Regions from separate parts of the Homo sapiens genome. Here region 1 is linked to region 2. The links come from fine-mapping of genetic effects on plasma protein levels. A gene starts in region 2. The other region holds a variant in brackets. All regions are shown on one strand. Distances are from middle to middle.

Region 1 (9,790 bases), 43 kb before region 2:
CAGATGTAGCCAAGAGGCCACTCACAGCCCCGATCTGCCCAGTACCCATCCTGCAGGGAGCAGAGAGAGAGAAAAAAATAAAGGATTATCAGTTTGGGGACCTTTTTTTTTTTTTTTTTTTTGAGACAGTGTCTCACTCTGTCCCCCAGGCTGGAGTGCAGTGGCGCGATCTTGGCTCATGGCAACCTCTGCCTCCCAGGTTCAAGTGATTCTCCTGCCTCAGCCCCCCTAGTAGCTAGGATTACAGGAACCCACCACCAAGCTCTGCTAATTTTTTGTATTTTTAGTAGAGATGGGGTTTCACCATGTTGGCCAGGCTGGTCTTGAACTCCTGACCTCAGGCGATCCACCCACCTTGGCCTCCCAAAGTGCTGGGATTACAGGCATGAGCCACTGCGCCCGGCCAATTTTGGACTTTGATGTTATTTTCTTGTAACTGTGCCTCAGAGGAGGAAAATTAAGATCCAAGGTTATTGAGAGAAAACGGCATCTACTGAAAGGAAAGGTAATTGACATGTTCATATGTAAACAGTAATTTTGACTCTAGCTACAAACATGTAAAAAGTGATTGGAGCCGCAATATGATTTTATATCTGAGATGTCCAAGCCATTGTTTAGAGGAATCCAGGGAGAAATTAAAAATGTCTGTAAGTCCTTGGATGACGGTGCTCGCAAGAGGTTTGCATGCAGCCTCTTTTTTTTTTTTTTTTTTTTTTTTTTGAGACGGAGTCTCGCTCTGTTGCCCAGGCTGGAGTGCAGTGGCTCTGATCTTGGCTCACTGCAAGCTCCACCTCCCAGGTTCACACCATTTTCCTGCCTCAGCCTCCTGAGTAGCTGGGACTACAGGCGCCTGCCACCACGCCCTGCTAATTTTTTATATTTTTAGTAGAGACGGGGTTTCACCGTGTTAGCCAGGATGGTCTCGATCTCCCGACCTCATGATCCGCCTGCCTCGGCCTCCCAAAGTGCTGGGATCACAGGCGTGAGCCACTGGGCCCGGCCGCATGCAGCGTCTTCATCAATCCCTGCAGTCAGCTCTGTCTTCAAATTAATCAAGTTCATATACGCCATCCAGAAAAATCTCCTGCACCCAACACACCAACTTGAAAGCATCATGAAACCACAGTCATCTTTTCTGCCTTCTTCCTATTTCTACTGATGAGTGCTCCCCTGGATCTGAGGCTCAACCTTCCACTTTATTTCAGATTCTATCCCCTCTCTTTTCCTTTGAGATTTCATGTTAAAAGGACCTCTCCTTTCCTTCCCTTCGCTGCTAAACATCTTGAAAAAAATGTTTTCTGGGCCAAGCGCGGCGGCTCACGCCTATAATCCCAGCACTTTGGGAGGCCAAGGCGGGTGGATCACCTGAGGTCAGGAGTTCAAGACTAGCCGGGCCAACATGGTGAAACCCTGTCTCTACTAATAATACAAAAAAGTTAGCTGGATGTGGTGGTGCACGCTTGTAATCTCAGCTACTCGGGAGGCTGAGGCAGGAGAATCGCTTGAACTCTCGAGGCAGAGGTTGCATTGAGCCAAGATTGTGCCATTGCACTCCAGCCTGGGCAGCAAGAGCAAAACTCTGTCTCAATAAATAAATAAATAAATAAAATGTTTTCTGTATTGTCTGTCTTTAACTCCTCATATCCTAGTTGGTCTCAGCCCAGTGCAATCTGACACGTAAGCCTTTAGCCAGAGTAACATTTATAAATTGCCACTTTGGTTTTACCCCTCCGAGACAACTCATGTTTCTTGAACCTCAGTTCCTACCCACCCTTCCGGCTCTGACTTCATGATTTCAACCACACTGACCTTTCACCTCCTCCAAGCATGCTGCTTTCTGGTTTCTTCTGTCTACTCTTTGGATAGTTAACACCTAATATGTTCTTAAACTTTCAATCCATCACAATAAAAACAACCACAATGACAAAAATAACAGCCACAGTGACAAAAATAAACAACCACAATGACAAAAATTATTGAACAATAAATATGGGCTGGGAACTGTGTACCACACATGCATTATTTAATACTCATATCCTGGGCCTGGCACAGTGGCTCACGCCTGTAACCTCAACACTTTGGGAGGCTGAGGCAGGCAGATCGCTTGAGCTTAGGAGTTCAAGACTAGCTTGGGCAACATGGCAAAACTCCATCTGTACCAAAAATACAAAAAATTAGCCAGGCGTGGTGGCACGCACCTTTAGTCACAGCTATTTGGGAGGCCTGAACCCAGGAGGTCAAGACTGCAATGAGCTGAGATTGCACCACTGCACTGCAGCCTGGGTGACAGAGCAAGACTCTGTCTTAAAAAACAAACAAACAAACAACAACAACAACAAAAAAAAAAACCTCATATCCACAGGTGAGCTAAGTACAGCTCTTATTCCCATTTTGCAAATAAAGGAGTCAGTCACACAGCAAAACTCAGCCTCTTAATCACTGTGTTTACCATCTATTAATAAAAGATAAATTTGATAACATTTTTCAATCACTGAGGTCATATTTCAATCATAAAAGCAATCATTTCATATGACAGCTCCATGTAAACTGAAAAAAATGAATGTAGCTCCCCAAGTACAGCTTCCAGACCTAATCCACCGTAGCTGTAAGTAGATCTGCATCTACTTGGTGTATATATATCTCTCACATATATACGGGGCTACAATCTCTTTTTACATATATATATATATACACACACACACACACACACACACACACATACATATATATCTCTTTTTACATCTCTTGTAATCATATATATGGCTTATAATAACTTTTTATATATACATGCATAATCATATATATGGCTTAATTGGTCAGATGAGAGCTTTGGTGGATATATATATACACCATTATAATATGGCACTATATATATGGCCATGTACATATATAGTGCCATAGAAACAATATGAGTATTCATTACAGGCGAATTTCATCCTTGACCCAAAAGTTTCTGTCCATTGCTTCAGTGATCCTCTTGAAAATTTGACTTTGCTAGACAGTTGAGAGGGATTCAAGAAATCAAATCTGAATTTTGGTTCACCTTTGATCCATGCCAATTTATGTAGAATAAAAACAATCTAAACAAACATATGTAACTGACTGGGACAGAAGGAAAAATCCCCCGTGACTTTCATTATAAATATCAGTCATTCAAGTGGCCTTACCTTGCCTTTCATCACCACACAATCCTCCTGTCTGTTGTTTTCATGGCTTGGTTCTCCACGAAGCCATTTGGTAAACGTTACAGGGGTCCCATCACTCCACTCAAAGTACATTTGAATCTTAATGTCATTTAAGCCGATCCACAATTCGTCATTTGGCTCTAAACAGGAAGAAACACACAGTGGTATATACAAGGGTTGCTTTCCAAAGGTCGGGGGGTAAAAGGAACGGAAGGCACTCTGCTTTATCAACAGGGCTCTACCTCCCTTGATATGATCACCATCATGAAAGATAGTCCTCATGAGTGCTCATCTGACCTACATGCTGTCGACTTAGATGCCAACTACATTTTACCTTGTTAGTTTTAGGCTGTGTAGTGTACCCTTTACATTGTGAATATGACTGTATTCTTTAGTGGAAATATTGTAGATTGTATCTCCTGGCAGTTACAAAAACAAAATTGAGGTAGGTCTATTACTATGCTCTATCTTATGAAGCTGCTTTTATTGTTGCAAATAATTTACCATGCCAACTGCACTCATGTTATTGATGGTAGCCTATTTATATACATCTGTTTGACTATGATTAAATTGATGAATGTTTTCAAATAACAAAAATTTTAAACTGCTTCTATTTTACTGACTCTTGTTATCAAGAACATTCTAGATACTTCCGTTAAAGATCAATCACTGTACTGGGAGTGAAAATTATCTATATAGTGAAAGAATTATAAACCAAGAGGTGAGACTTGCACCTGACATTTGGTACCTATCTATTATGCTGTATATACAAATGAATCTGTAATCATTTTCATCATGAAATGCCAGGAAATTCCAGCAAAACTTAAATAACAAATGAGGGTAAAACGAAAACAACCAATATAGATTTAAAACATGATCATTTTGTTTTGAAATTCTATGGAGAACATTATTGATTTTATAAGTAGGTGCCATGCTAAAAATTCCTAAATATCACAACAAAAATGGGATAAAGTTAAAGTCAATGAAGGTTTAAGATGTCATGGCTAAAAAATAAACTTGTCTAAATTAAAAAAAGTTAAAGAATACACAAATCAATATCTATCTAATTCACACGACTGGGAGTCCCATCATGAATGCTTGATGTATGATCATTTAGTGGTATAATAAAATTAGTTGCCAAAGTATTGTAAAGATGATGTTGTGGTAGAAAATGAGGAAAACATCACAATGTATAAGATTCTCCCTAAGCGGTTTAGTCTCTTCCTCCTGAAAGTTGTCATTCAACTTTGCTTTTGGAGAAGTCTCTAGCTGGCCTGGCGCCAGCACTGGCAGATGTTTCCAGTGCCGTGGAGAATGAATGACACTGCCAGGATGATCCTCTTCTCCTTTCACTTGATTTGCAGATCGTGATCTTTTCAGCAACAAATGCAGGCTTCAAAGTGACCTCATGTACCCCTCAAAGATTTAAATTGAAGATCAAAGAAAAACTAACCTCCTAAGTCCCACAGTTAAGAGTTTCCTATATACATATTTCTCACTAAATTGTTCTCCCCCATAGCTTCTTCAATTCCTAAGCACAATCTTGATCCTAGAAAAATATATAAGATGTGAGTGTAAAGTTGTCATGCTGATTTTTATCAATTAGTTGGGGAAGTTGTATTCATTGGTATAATCATAACTTACGTGTATAGGTCTTAATGTGTCCACTTGAAATATACTTCCATGATTAATACAAAAGGTATCATCTCAATTATGTAAAAAAAAATTTCTAGGTTTTTGTTTAGAAACAATAATTTTAACTTTACAACTTTACTTTTATTAATATTATTTTATTGTTTAAAATAAAATCTTATCAATAATTTTTAATGGAAGGTTTTCTAATTTATTTACTAATTCTCATGCTGAATTTCAAAGCAACTTTGGCCATCCAATTTCCTAAAATAATTATAGCAATAAAAATATCAGGTTTTTTTCTTTCACTACATTATGTTATACAAAGTAGAGTTAAATGTGCACTCCAGTTCTAGAGCATCCTAACTAACCTGTTTTCTGCTAAATCATTTGCAAACTTTACTGGCTATAAGTGCCACACTAAATTTAAGTAATTGTTATTCAGACATACCAGTTCTGATTCCATTATTATCTTCTATTGTGAATTTTCCAGGATAAGTAGACACAGAATAACCAAGAAATTGTTCATAGGCTGCAGCTGGGCTATTCTCGTGGCCTAAGACACTCAATGGGGTCAACACAGGAAGATGGATACCATTTGGCAGGTGCTAGAAGTAGGAGTGTTTCGGGGACTTTTAAGTCTTTTTCTGCTACTACTCTATTTGTTTCTCATCTATTTGTTAGTTGCTTTTTCCTCCCCTCCCCCAGCCCCAATCAGTTTCCAGGCACTATGTGTCAGGAAGCTGTCTCCACCATCTCCACCATCCATTTCCTCTTGTTTTGCTGGGGGGAAATGAAGAGCAGCTGCAGCTATTCAGCAGCCTCATCAGTGGAAGATGAAAATGATCATCATTTAATCAACAAGCACTGCTGAGTGCCCATTATCATTATGCTGTTTCTCAAGCCGCTCATCTTCGGGACAAGCATTCCCAGCTCATTTTATTCATCTATTTTTTTCTGCTTAGTACATTTTCTGTGTATTTTTAATTATGCACCTAAAATTGAGACATACATTTCTTTAAAAAAAATTTTTTTTAGTAGAGACGAGGTCTTGCTATGTTCCCTGGACTGGCCTCAAACTCCTGGGCTCAAGCTATCCTTCCCACCTTGGCCTCCCAAAGTGGTGGGATTACAGGCATGAGCCACCGTAGCTTGGCCAAGAAATATATTCCTTTAAAAGGTTTAGGCTGACATCTAACCATTTCAAAAAAAAAAAAACTCCTATATTTTTCACTGTTCAACACCCTCCCAGCATCAGCTAAATTCACAAAGAAAAAAGAAATCTAAAGTCTGAAACAGTCCATTTAGAAATCTTTTTTAGGAGATAAAATATGGACCTAAAAAAAGAAGATACACACACACACACAGATAATTCCAAGGAATTAAGCATTGTTCACAAGTGTAAGGTAGACTGCTCTGCATCCAGATAATGCATGAAAAAAATAATGTTTTAAAACTACCCATAAATGGATTACACATTAAAAGAAAAAGAAATTGAATTATCTTTCAGTGATAAGAATTCTTTCAATTATTATACAATTTTCACATTGTGGCATTTTCAGCATTTGTGATTAAATTCATACGTTGTTCGTTGAATTATTGATTTACATTGATTAAATTTGATGTTTATGATAGAATTTTCCAGAGTTGGGTAGAAAGGGGTGCTCCCAGGATTAAAGCCAAGTATATTATCACTGTCAAGTTTCTCACCATATCCTAGCTGGGAGATAATAAAGTCCAATTCCTCGATGGTGTGGATACTTGTGAGGTCACCGCCTTCCTTCCTGCAGGTGGTCAGAGCATCCCTCTGGATTTTTTTCTCATCTCTGTGAATCTTGTAACAGTGACCGGCATACGGCCACCACTGACTAGGACAGTGAGTAGGCACATCACTTTCTAGAAACAAAAAGGGGGGTCGGAAAAAAATTTTAAAAGATTTGATTAAAACTATAACAATATTTTAATCATTTTATATAATACATGAAACAGCTTATAGTTACTAGGCAAATAAAGGTAACATTTAGTTTTTATTTTCGCAGCATACATATTCACCAAAAATAGACAAGGCATATACTATTTTGTTGGTTTTTAGACAAAACAAAATAACCTACTTTTTAATCAAATGGGAAATCACCTTATCAACTTTCTTTCTTTCTTTTTTTTTTTTTTTTAAGAGACAAGGTCTCCCTCTATTCCCCAGGCCAGAGTGCGGTGGTGTGATCATGTCTCATTGCAGCCTCAACCTCCTGGGCTCAAGCAGTCCTCCTGCCTCAGCCTCCTAAGTAGCTGCTACTACAGGGCATAAGCCACTGTACTTGGCTATGGGAAATCTCTTTTTAAAAAGTTATATCTACAACAAGACTATACTAATACATATTAGATTATCTAAATCTTGTCAGCAAACCTGAACTAAGCATCTGTTATGCACTGTTTAAATGCTGGAGGCCTGAAAGCTTTGGGGGACTAAACACATCCCCTAAAAGATTTGAATTTACTTTATTCTATGGACATTAGGGAGCCAGTCACTCTTGAGAGGCAGGTTAGTGTTGAAGTAGAGAGCTGGAATGGCTGGGGGACAAACGGTCTCCAAGGAGCCTCCGCCACCATAGCCACATGAGTCAGCCACTTGTTGCCTCAGAACAGACCCACTACCATTTAGTTGCTACCCAAAACTGACACGTGCTTGTGACTAGGAGAGGGATCTGGAGTCATAACTCCTAAAACCTGAATTTGCGGTAAGTTGTGTGATCTTCGGCAAGTCACATCACATGAAAAGGAGTACCCATATAGGTGAAAATTTTTAAATGAGATTAGTACTAACACTAATATCAAACCACCCACCCCATGTTCTTCTGAACTAGAAAAGAATAGAGAGAGTGTGCTTGTAAATCACAAGCACCACACAATCATTATTTAATTAAACCAGCTGTCAACATCCTCAGCCTCGCTACTAATAGGATCAAATTGTATAATCTTGATTATACGCTGCAAAAATTTAATAGTAATGAGCTAGGGGAAAGTGACAATAAAGACATTTGAAGGCAGATGTTTATTCATCCCTATTGCCTTGAGCCTGGCACAGGGCCTGGTACATATAAGCGTATTGAGTATTGGAAGAGAAAAAGAATTGAAGTTATAGTTGATATATGGCTGCTTGTTATTACTATTCTAGAGATACTATTTCAAACAGTAATTTGGCAACATGTTTTGCTTAGAAGGGGACTATATTGCCAAATGAAAGTGAACGTATATATTATTTAAGCTCATATTAAATGTTTTCAAATGGCTGTCTTAGTATATGTTCGTTATAGGGTACCTTTCTTCACTATTCCTTTGATGAATTGGTCGTATCTTCCCTTAAAGGTGGAGAGTATCTGAAACATCATTGTTTAAGCCCAGGATTTTGTGCCCTGCAGTCATACAAGTAACTACTCAGTCATGAGGCTCAAATGCTGTACAATTGTAATAAAAAATGCATATTTAAAAAAATTCTATTCCCTCAATACAATTTAGATTCTGTGCACTTCCAGTGGTTACAAAAAAAAAAAGAAGAAAAAGAAAAAGAAAGCAAGCTTAGTACAGCTTTGGAGCCCTCTGGTGGGTTATTTTAATTTTGCTACCTAGGAAATTGAAAATAGTATCAGCCAATGCTGTCCTTCAAAAACTGAAATGATGAACTTTAAACATATTTGAAAGCATGAAAACAACCAACTTGAGTGAAATGAAGGGGAGTTCCCTGGGGCAGCCACAGAAGATGATTTGTTCCTCTAGCCACAGCTCATGTGCTCAGTGGCCACATGCGGTTAAGTGGCTGCTAAGCCAGAGAGTACAGCCCTAGAGACCTGAGGATTATGGACAAA[C/T]GGGTTAGTGTTACAATAATTCACAGGGTTTGAGGTTGAATTCTTGCCTAAGGCTGTTGCTAATCCCGTATGCTGCATAATTTGAACTCTGATACGCTTTTCCAAGCTCTGGTTTATTTGAGTTTATAGATAAAACAGAATCATTAATCCAGGGAGTATAGAGATGTTCAGAAACTGACATCAAGTGGTTAGCGAGTGAAGAAGGCATCATGGAGGAATAAGAATGTACTGAGTGTTTGATGAAATGAACAAAATTTTATCTCAGGAAGAAGAGTCATGAACATTTCCATTTTACACATGAGGATCCCAGCACCGGCAGGTTAAGCAGTAAGGCCAAGTTACAGAATTCTGAGTGCTGTACCAGAGAAACTATAAAGTAACTATTCTCCTCTTTGGCAACATGGAAATTCCAAGTCTTAGAAAGAGAATTGTAATGAAGGCTTCCAAAAAAGGAAAAAATACACTATTTCTCCTAGAGGAGGAATAGTAGAGGTAAAATGCAAAAATGGTGAGCTTTCTCTAAAGATACCCACCGTCACTATGGAGAGCCTGTAAAGGATAATCAAACCCAACATCCAGGTCCCGCATCTATATCTATTTAGGATCTTGGCCAAATCTATATCAATTAAAATTGCAAACACATCTCCTCCCTAATCCAACAATTCCACTTCCAGGAATGATCACATGCATGAAATGATGTGCATAGAATGTATATAGTTATTTACCTCAGGACTGTTTGTATTAATAAAAGATTGGAAGTAAATTAAATTAAAAATCCATTACACAGGAGATCGGTCAAAAAAATATATGTGCTGTCTCTGCAATAGCTTTTGGACAGCCATAAAATTAAACATAGAAGCTGTTTATATTCTACGTGGAATGATGTCCAAAATTGTTGTTAAGTGGAAAACTTAGGATAAAAACATATTATAGTATACTGCCATTTGTATGAAACAAAAATAATTATAAATATATTTGTTTATATAGTCACAGAATAACTAAGGATACACACCCAGAAACAATTATTCTCCAGGAAGGTAAACTGGGTGTTACAGGTGAGAGGTAGGGAAAACCTTATTATTTATCATGTTGTATCTTTTGAATCTCTAGCTA
Region 2 (9,885 bases):
AATTATCTTTCTTAGCATTTCAACGAGGGAAATGAAATAGAGGAGTATCAGGATTATACCATTAGCGTGATGTCTATGTCAGAACCACAGTTGGATCCCTTCCAGCCAAATGTGAGACCCGCAAATGGCAACAGGAATAACCTAATTTGCACTTACTTGATCTAACAGCGCAGCAAGAAATCTAAGGGGATGTGGAAAAGTACAAGCCGTTGAGCAAAGTCCTGGATCTACATCTACCTGCTAAACAGTCACCTTCTGGACATTTTACCTCCCTGAGCCTGGTGCTTCATCTATAAAATGATGATGTCAAAATGCATCATTTCCTAGTTTGTTCTTGCTTTAATGGTCTATGATTCTAAGGCTTCTCTGTCCACCAAGACGTCTCTCATTATCATTTTTTGCAGATGTTCTAGGCTTTTCATGATACTACCTGACCCACTGTTTGAGCGCCTTCCCAGAGCCTAGAAAGGCTCCATATTGCCCTGGGACCAATAGCAGCAGCTAGCAAGAGCCTATTGTTGGCCAGGTGTGGTGGCTCATGCCTGTAATGTCAGCACTTTGGGAGGCTAAGGTGGGCAGATCACGAGGTCAGGAGTTCAAGACCAGCCTGGCCAACATGGTGAAACCCCATCTCTACTAAAAATAGAAAAAATTAGCCGGGTGTGGTGGCGGGTGCCTGTAATCCCAGCTACTCGGGAGGCTGAGGCAGGAGAATTGCTTGAACCCACGAGGCAGAGGTTGCAGTGAGCCAAGATCACACCATTGCACTCAAGGCTGGGTGACAGAGAGAGACTCCATCTCAAAAAAAAAAAAAAAAAAAAAAGCCTACTGTTGGCATCTCTTCCCAACTCTGCCCCCAGGGGCATCAAGTCAGTAGCTTGAAATCAACCATGGTGGGAATATTTACAGCATGGACATCAGTAAACAGCAAAACAGCATAAGTCAAATCAGTGCTTCCTTTCTTTTCCTTCTTGGAACCAGTAGTTGTTTGCCAATACACCACTACCTGTGAGCCAAACCCTCCCATTTCCAAGTTAAACTTCTTTGCTGTGGTCTAACCTCTGTGTCCCACCGGCTCTCATGGTGCATCTACCATGATTATAACCCAACTGAGCTGGAAACCTTGCTGCTGAGTGCTAAAAAGATAGTGCGGCAAGAACAACAGTAGGAAAGGTGAGCGTCTAGCCCTGTTAACCTCTAGACTCCTGGACCCCTCCAGGGAGAACCAGCCCATCCGTTGGCAGCAGCCCACAGAGACTTATGGTGCTAATGCTGTGGGATGCTCTCCTGAAGGTGGAAGGAAGGGGTGTGGATTGAAAAGAAATAAACTGATGGCAAGTAGGGAGACCTTCCCATGGGTTTTCCTAGTGGGCAGGAAGCCAGGGGAGAGGTGTTGGGGCTTCGCATAGTTTAACCTGCTGCTAACTAAGCAGGTGCCCTGCCTTTACACAAATTCCTCCAATCACATGCTTCTCGGGCCAAGAAAAGATAAAATAAAAGTTACAGGCTGGGTGCAGTGGCTCACATCTATCATCCTGCACTATGGGAGGCCAAAGTGGGAGGATCACCAGAGCCCAGAAGTTTGAGATCGGCCTGAGCAAGATAGTGAGACCCCATCTCTACAAAAATAAAAAAAAATAAAAAAAATTAAAAATTAGCCTGGCATAGTGGCTCAAGCCCAAAGTCCCAGCTACTGGGGAGTTGGGAGTGGGCCAAGGTGGGAGGATTGCATGAGCCCAGATGTCAAGGCTGCAGTGAGCCATGATCACACCACTGCACTCCAGCCTGGGTGACAGAGTGAAACCAGTCTCAAAAAACAAAACAACACAAATTACAGGCTTTCACGTAGGAAAAAAAAATCTGGAAGGGGGGTCCCTTGAATTTTTTGTTTGTTTATTCTCCAAGTAAACAGATCTTCAGCATCCCCCTTCTCTCCCCAATATTTGTGCCTATGAAGAGGAAGACATTAGTCAGAGGAGGGCATCCTGCTGTCAGGAAGAGGGAAACACTCCTGAGCAAACCGAGAAACACTATTGCTCAAAGCATTATTGAGTCAGTTTAAAGAAAATTAGGCACTGTGTCTGTGCTGCCCAGTATGATAGCCAGTCACCTCATGTAACCATTGTACACTTAAAATGACACTACTGTGAATTGAGACATGCTATAAGTATGCAATACTCACCAGATTTTGAAGAGTTAGTTTTAAGAAATGAATGGGAAAATATTCCAAATCGATTAAATGTTGAGGGATAATATTTCCGAGTTACTGGGTGAAATAAAATACATTAATAATATCAGGGCTGGGCGCTGTGGCTCATGCCTATAATCCCAGCACTTTGGGAGGCTGAGGAGGGCAGATCACTTGAGGTCAGGAGTTCGAGGCCAGCCTGGCCAACATGGTGAAACGTTGTCTCTACTAAAACTACAAAAATCAGCTGGGCATGGTGGTGCATGCCTGTAATCCCAGCTACTTGGGAGGCCGAGGCAGGAGAATCACTCGAACCCAGGAAGTAGAGGTTGCAGTGAGCCAAGATCATGCCACTGCACTGCAGCCTGGGCAACAAAATGAGAATCTGTCTCAAAAATAAAAATAAAATTAATTTCATCTATCCTTTTTATTTGGCCTTTTATGTACTTCTTTTCTGCCACTGATTTTAATAGCTAACACTTATAAGGCACTTACTATGGGTCATACTCTGTTCTAAACATTTCACATATTGTTACTCATTGAATCATCACAAGAACTGATGGGGGCAGGTAATATTATTCTTTCCATTTTATAGACATGGAAACTAAAGCACAAAGAAATAAAGTAGCCTGCCCAAGGTCGCAAAGCTAGTGAGTGAGAGAGACAGGATGTAAACCATACCGCCTTCACTTGTGTTTTTGTAATCACTACCACTCAATACTTATGATTTAACATTTGCGGTACTAAAACACTCTCTTCCTAGGAAACTTCCCACCCGCCTTCACATCAGTGCATAGAGTAGATCGTAGGCACAAACCATTCTCTGCAAGTGTTTGTTGATTTCATAGAATTAAAGGGGGATCAGAAATCAAAAAATCAAATTTGAAATCTCTTCTAAATCATCTCCAAATAGAACCAGGAATGAAAATCCCCCGAGGCACTCCCATCCTGAAGTTTAAGCAACTGAGTATAGAGAAATAGAAAAGACAGACTGGAAAAGGTATTTGAGAATTTGAACAACTCTGGAGCTGTTCCTAATGAGTAATCTCTAATCTCCAGAAAAAGAAGAAAAACAGGAATCGATCTGCTTATGCGGCAGTTTGAATAGTCTAGAATACAGATAAGGATGAACTTTCTAACAATCAAGTGTCTGAATGATTCTGGCAGAAAAAAAAATGAGTATGGAAATTGCTTAGAATCTCTTTTGGGGGGATGATCTGCGATGATACCCTCGGACCTAAGACGCGGGGAGACATCAGGGCTGCCCTCCTTCCAGCCAGAGACACTCAGAAGGTGTTTGTTGGCGGTGAGACAGAAATAGTGTGAATTGAAAACCAGAAAGAGTAAACCACAGAGCAGGAAATTTCTGCACGAAGAAAACAGGGAAGGAACAACGAGCGATGAGAGAAGTCAGGAGGACACTGAAGGTCTGTAGGGTTCCCGGCAGGGCAGCAACCGAGACCTGAGACGCATCCTCCTCCCTCCTCCAACTCCAGGCCTCCCATGCCTGGCCGCCAGGTGAAGGCAGCAGGCTTAGCCGTGGACTGCGTGGTGCAGGGGAACCCCGTTTCCTCCTCACAAAGATGTTGAAAGGAACCCATTCACAGTAACCCAGAAGAGGAAGGTGTGGTTCCGGCCCCCCAGGTCAGAGATCCCCTGCCTCAGAGCAGACTTACCCAGTAGGAGAACAGCACCCGGAATGACAGAGGCAAAAACCAGGAGCAGGGGTAGCCTCATGGCCCAGGGTTTATCCTTTCCTTCTCCTGATGGACAGGAGGGCGGAACTAAGACGCAAAACAACGAGGCCCCCCAACTGCCTCTCCACCTAATCCAAGTTCCCAGAGCTGCCCAGCTGAAAAGAACTACAGAGGAAGCCCTCCCTTTTAAAGGGCTCCTGAATTTAGGGAAAGCCTCTACTGAGGAGACATCCTGTCACATGAGGGTGGCTGGAAAAACAGGAATTCAAAGTAACAACTTTGCTTCGTAAGCTAACTTCTGAGAAGAGCAGACGCAGAGGAAGGGGAGAAAGGGACACGTGTGGGAGAGGAGTGGCGGGGTGGGGAGGAGAGAGGGCGATGGTGATGGTGAGGAGTCAGGAAGGAGAGAAGTGAAACAGCCTGGGAGCTCCCGGCCTGCTCAGATGGGGCTGGGTGGAGATCAAGCTGCAGGCCATTACCTGTGCCGGAAGACGGAGCTTCCCCTGGGAAGCAGCTGAGTCAGGGGTCCCTCAGCAGACAACCTCCACTCTGAAGTGACAGCCACACGGGCCCTGGAAAGGACAGTTTTACGCTGGAAACACTTCAGAGTTGAAGCTCATCCCCTTCAGTTTCCACATTCAGTGCTTAGAGCCTTTCTTTTTTTTCTTGGAAAGTTTCAACAGAAAGTTCCGTGGAGCTTCATTTCCTCCAGGCAGAAGAAAAGTGAAAAGGAGGCTACACCTAAGAGGGAATGTCAGTCAGGCCAGGAAGGAGAAAGTTCTAGAAACCTTTTGCTAGAACGTTCTCTAGAAAGCCAGAAAAAACAGTGGTAAAGGATTTGCAGTAAAGCCTTGCTGCCCAGCCTCAACCATCCCGGTCCTCTTCAAGTTTAAGTGGGTCCCCTTGCTAGAAAAAGAAAATCTGGCCAGGCACAATGGCTCACGCCTGCAATCCCAGCAGTTTGGGAGGCCGAGGCAGTCAGATCACCCGAGGTCAGGAGTTTGAAACCAGCCTGGTCAACATGGCAAAAACCCGTCTCTACTAAAAATACAAAAGTTAGCCGGGTGTGATCATGCACACCTGTAAGCCCAGCTACTCAGGAGGCTGAGGCAACAGAATCGTTTGAACCTGGGAAGTGGAAGTTACAGTGAGTCAGGATCGCACCACTACACTCCAGCCTGGGCGACAGACGCGAAACTCCATCTCAAAAAAAAAAAAGAAAAGAAAAAAAAGAAAAAGAAAATCTGATTGTTTGGTCAAAAGGTATATCTTTATTTAAAGGCAAGTGGAATTCTTTCTTAGAATAAAATATGTTTCTAGATCTTTCATTAAGCAGAAAATAACCCTCCAAACATTTATGTTGTCATTTTTCAAAAGTAGAACAGGAATTTAGAACATTTTAAAGCAGAAACTAACGATTAGCTGGCCAAACCGTTACTAGAGTGTGGAATATGTTAGTAATTCAAAAAGAAGCTACTGGAAACATTGTAATTTTTAAAATTTTTTAAATGAATAGTTTTATCTTCAAACGGAAAGCCTCCACATTCGTTGTCTTTGTGATAAAGTTGAAAAGTTTCCATCCTATTAGAAATGTGATGTAGTTCTCTTACTGATTGTTTTTAACATGTAAATTTGAGATTATCCTGACCGGAGGGAAAAAGATAGTGAAAATGTAGGACAGAGGACCAAAGTTTCTTTGTCACTAAGGCTGTACATGACTGAAAAAAAAAATGATGGTTATAGAACAGAACAGACAAAACAAAAATGTTTCTCAGACATTGTTTCACTGGCTTATGAAAATAATAGTTTAAATGGGTCATTTGTGGCTTTCAAATATAAATAAATCATATACAAAAGTGACTGCCTAATTTACATTTATATATATTTCAGAAGCAAATACATTTAATTGAATTATGTATATAATCACATTCAGGGTTGGTTTGTTTCTTTGAGACAGAGTCTTGCTCTGTCGCCCAGGCTGGAGTGCAGTGGTGCAATCTGGGCTCACTGCAACCTCCACCTCCCGGGTTCAAGCGATTCTCCTACCTCAGCCTCCCAAGTGGCTGGGATTACAGGCGCGTGCCATGATGCCCAGCTATTTTTTGCATTTTTAGTATAGACGGGGTTTCACCATGTTGGCCAGGCTGGTCTCAAACCCCTGACCTCAAGTGATCCGCCCGCCTTGGCCTCTGAAAGTGCTGGGATTACAGACGTGTGCCACCATACCTGGCCCAGGGTTTGTTTTTTAATTACATAAGTGTGTATATCACATTAGTAAAATTAAAAATTAGGATCAGTACTAAAATCTGTGAAGTTTAAACAAAATGCAGCCAACCACCCCACAAAGAATTTACCCCATGACCTTGACCTCGTTGAAACAAAGATTTATCAGGCTACAAGAGGCCACTGGGGCAAAAAATAAATCCAAATCTTGGGGAAGGGATGTCACAGAAGATGGTGGTGTGGGAAACTCCAGGAATTCATCCCTCCATCTAAGCAGCCATCAAATGGACAGGAACTGACTGAAGTAACTGCAGGTGCTCCTCTACTCATGATCAAATTAGGCCCTGTTAAACCCAATGTGAGTTGAAATATGCTAAGTCAAAAATGCACTTAATACACCTGACCTACCAAACATCACGGCTCAGCGTAGCCTACCTTAAACGTGTTGAGAACACTTACATTAGCTTCCAACTGGGCAAAATTGATAGGGACAGGAGGCAGAGAAGTGCTAGGTAGAGAAGGGCAGGATCCCTGGCGAGGGCTCCACCCTCGGACCTGTGCCCACGGACCTAAGTGGGAACAGGCACTCCTGTTTTCATGCGCAAATGTTACATTTCCAAGACCACTATGATTCACCACACCCCGCATCCTGTGCCCATAAAAACCTGAGACCTTAATGGGCATAGACACAAGCGCTAAACATTGAGAAGAGTGAAGGAATAGAGCAGTGGAGAGCAGTGGGGTGGCGCAGCAGAGAAAGAGAGAAGAAGGACATCTGGACACCAAGGGGAGTTTGGCCAGCAGTGGTTGGAGAATAGTCTGGGGGGTTAGGCAGCCTGGCTCCAGGGGAAGACCACCTTCCCACTCCACTCCCCACTTCCAGTTCCCCATCCATCTCGCTGAGAGCCACCTACACCACTCAATAAAACCTTGCACTCAACCCTCCAGCCCACATGTGATCTGATTCTTCCAGTACACTGGGCAAGAACTCAGGCTGTCACACTGCCTCCCTGTCCTTGTGATAAGGCAGAGGGTCTATTGAGCTGACTAACACAAGCTGTCTGCAGATGGTATAGCTGAAAGAGCACACTGTAACACACGCCCACTTGGGCTTCAGGAGTCCTAGATGCTGCCGTGGGGTGGAGCCCAAAAGCACTCCCCACAGCCTCTGCACCTGCCCATCTGCATGCTGCATGCTCCCCCCTAGGGGTTTGAGCAGCAGGGCACCAAAGGAGCAAGCCTCATTCCTGTCGCACCCCCTGCGAGGGTCATAAGGGAACTCTTCTATTTCAAAATCATCTAACAAAACCTATTTTATAATACAGTGTTGAGTATCTCGTAATTTATTGGATATGGTACTAAAAGTGAGAAGCAGAATGGGTGTATGGGTATTCGAAATACATTTTCTACTGAATGCACCATTTCTATTTCACATCATCATAAAGTGGGTAAATCATTATGTCTAACAATCCTAAGTCAAGGACCATCTGTATTTGGGAACTAGTCTAGTCAGAAACTTGGAGCATCCAAGGGAGAGCTTGATAAAGAGGCTGGTACATTTCAGCGAATTTCAGCTTCTCCCTGTGGTTATGGCTGTGTCAGGCAGCTGTGAAGGGGGAAGCAGCCCACACGCCCAGTGCAGCTAGGTGAGGCCAGGCCGGGCAACAAGGATTTAGCCCTCCAAATGTCAGGACTGTGTGTTCTGATTGGTGCTTTTATTTGCTTTCATCACTTCTCTTCAACTTAGTACTGGAAGTTCTAATAAGAGCATGTAGGAAAGAAAAAAATAAATAAAAGCATCCAAATTAAAAAGGAAGAAGTGAAATTATCTCTGTACACAGATGGCCTGATTTTAAATGTAGGAAGTCCTAAAGCTTACACACACACACACACACACACACCACACACAAATACCACATACACATACACAATAGACACATACACACCACACACACACACCACACACACATACATACACACGCCACACACACACACATACACACCACACACACAAACTGTAGCACTAACAAATTTAACAAAGTTGCAGGACACAAAATCAAAACACAAAAATCAGTTGAATTTTGATACACTTGTAATGAACAATCTGAAAATAAAATTAAGAAAATTCCATTTGCAATAGAATCAAAAAGAACAAAATACTTAGGAATAAATTTAACTACGTAGACAAAAGACTTGTCCACTGAAAACTACAAATGGTTGCTGAAAGAAAAAGACCTAAATAAATGAAAAGATACCCTGTGTTCATGAAATGGAAGACTTGATATTGTTAAGATGTCAATATTATCCAATATAATCTATAGATTCATGCAATCCCTATCAAAATCCCAATGATTTTTTTTTTTTGCAGAAATGAAAAACCCCATCCTAAAGTTCATATGGAATTTCATGGGAGTCTGCACAGCCAAAACAATTTTGAAAAAGAATGAAGTTGAACGATTCACACTTCCTGATTTCAAATCATACTACAAAATGACAGTAATCTAAACAGTGTGGTACAGGCATAAGGATAGCCATATAGGCCAATGGAATACAATAGAGAGGCCAGAAATAAACCTATGTGGGCAGTTGATTTCCAACAAGGTGCCAAAAGCATTCAATGAGGAAAGAACAGCATTTGTGCTGGGAAAACTGGCCATCCACAGGAAAGAGAATGAAATTGGACTCTTACCTTACATTAAATACAAAAATTAACCCAAAGTGGATCAAATGCCTAAACATAAGAGCTAAAAACTATAAAACTCTTAGAAGAAAACGTCAGGAAATAAAATCTTCACAACATTGGATTTGACAATGATTTCTTGGATTGGATACCAAAAACACAAGCAATAAAAAAGTAGATAAAAAGGCCTTTATCACAGTTAAAAACTGTGTCCACCAAAGTACACTATCTAGAAAGTGAAAAGACAGCACAAAATAGAAAATATCTGTAAATCACATATCTGATTAAGGGATGAATATCCAGAATATATTAACAACTACAACTCAATAACCACAACAAAACCAAATACAAAATGGTCGGTGGACCTGAACAGATAATTCTCCAAAGAAGATATACAAGTGGCCAATAAGCTAAGCACATGTAAAGATGCTCAACATCATTAGTCATTAGGGAAATGTAAATCAAAACTACAATGAAATAGAATTTCACACCCAAAAGAATTATTACTTTAAAAAAACAGAAAATAACAAGTGATGGTGAGAATATGAGAAATTGGAACCCTCGGGCATTGCTGGCGGGAATGTAAAATGGTGTAGCCACTGCGGAAAACAGCTTGGCAATGCCTCACAAAGTTACACTATAATTATCATACGATCCAGCAATTCTACTTCTAGGTATATACCCAGAAGAACTGAAATTAGGGACTCAAACACATATTTGTACAACAATGTTCAAAGAAGTTTTACTTATGATAGCCAAAAAGTAGAAGCAACTCAGGTGTCTGTTAGCAGATAAACAAATGTGGTATGAACATACAGTGGGATATTATAGAGCCGTAAAAAGGAATCCTGATACCTGCTATATGTACAACCTTTCAACATTTTGCTAAGTGAAATAAGCCAAACATAAACGGACAAATATTATGTGATTCCACTTATGTGAGGTATATAGAATAGGTAAATTCAGAGACATAGGAAGAAGAGAGTTTACTAAGGGGTGGGAGGTGGAGGATGGAGGAGAATGGAGAGTTATTGTTTAATGGGCACAGAGCCCATTGGATGTTGGATGATGAAAAGTTCTGGAAATACAGAGTGGTG

Which allele goes with the higher level. Alleles are on the strand shown, and positions count from the first base shown. The strength of an association depends on the size of the effect and on how common the allele is.
For the plasma level of the protein whose gene starts at base 4,043 in region 2, allele C in region 1 goes with a lower level than allele T (moderate association).

Evidence for each region. PIP is the chance, under the fine-mapping model, that this variant and not a neighbour inherited with it causes the effect. The UK Biobank Pharma Proteomics Project read protein levels with antibody pairs (Olink). The fine-mapping took linkage between variants from a reference panel, not from the people measured, so its PIPs are less certain.
Region 1: its variant is fine-mapped to the plasma level of the MRC1 protein (UK Biobank, PIP above 0.99).

The regions. Positions count from the first base shown.
Region 1 is chr10:17,846,502-17,856,291 of GRCh38, reverse strand. MRC1 (mannose receptor C-type 1) reads right to left here. Exons shown (of 30, transcript NM_002438.4): 7 at 6,528-6,713; 8 at 3,168-3,325; 9 at 1-50. Among named protein-coding and RNA genes, the nearest start is that of MIR511, 6.3 kb to the right of the region's middle. The variant C/T (reference allele first, on the strand shown) is at 8,678.
Region 2 is chr10:17,803,506-17,813,390 of GRCh38, reverse strand. It overlaps MRC1 (mannose receptor C-type 1), which reads right to left and starts at 4,043. Exons shown (of 30, transcript NM_002438.4): 1 at 3,865-4,043. The coding sequence starts at 3,925.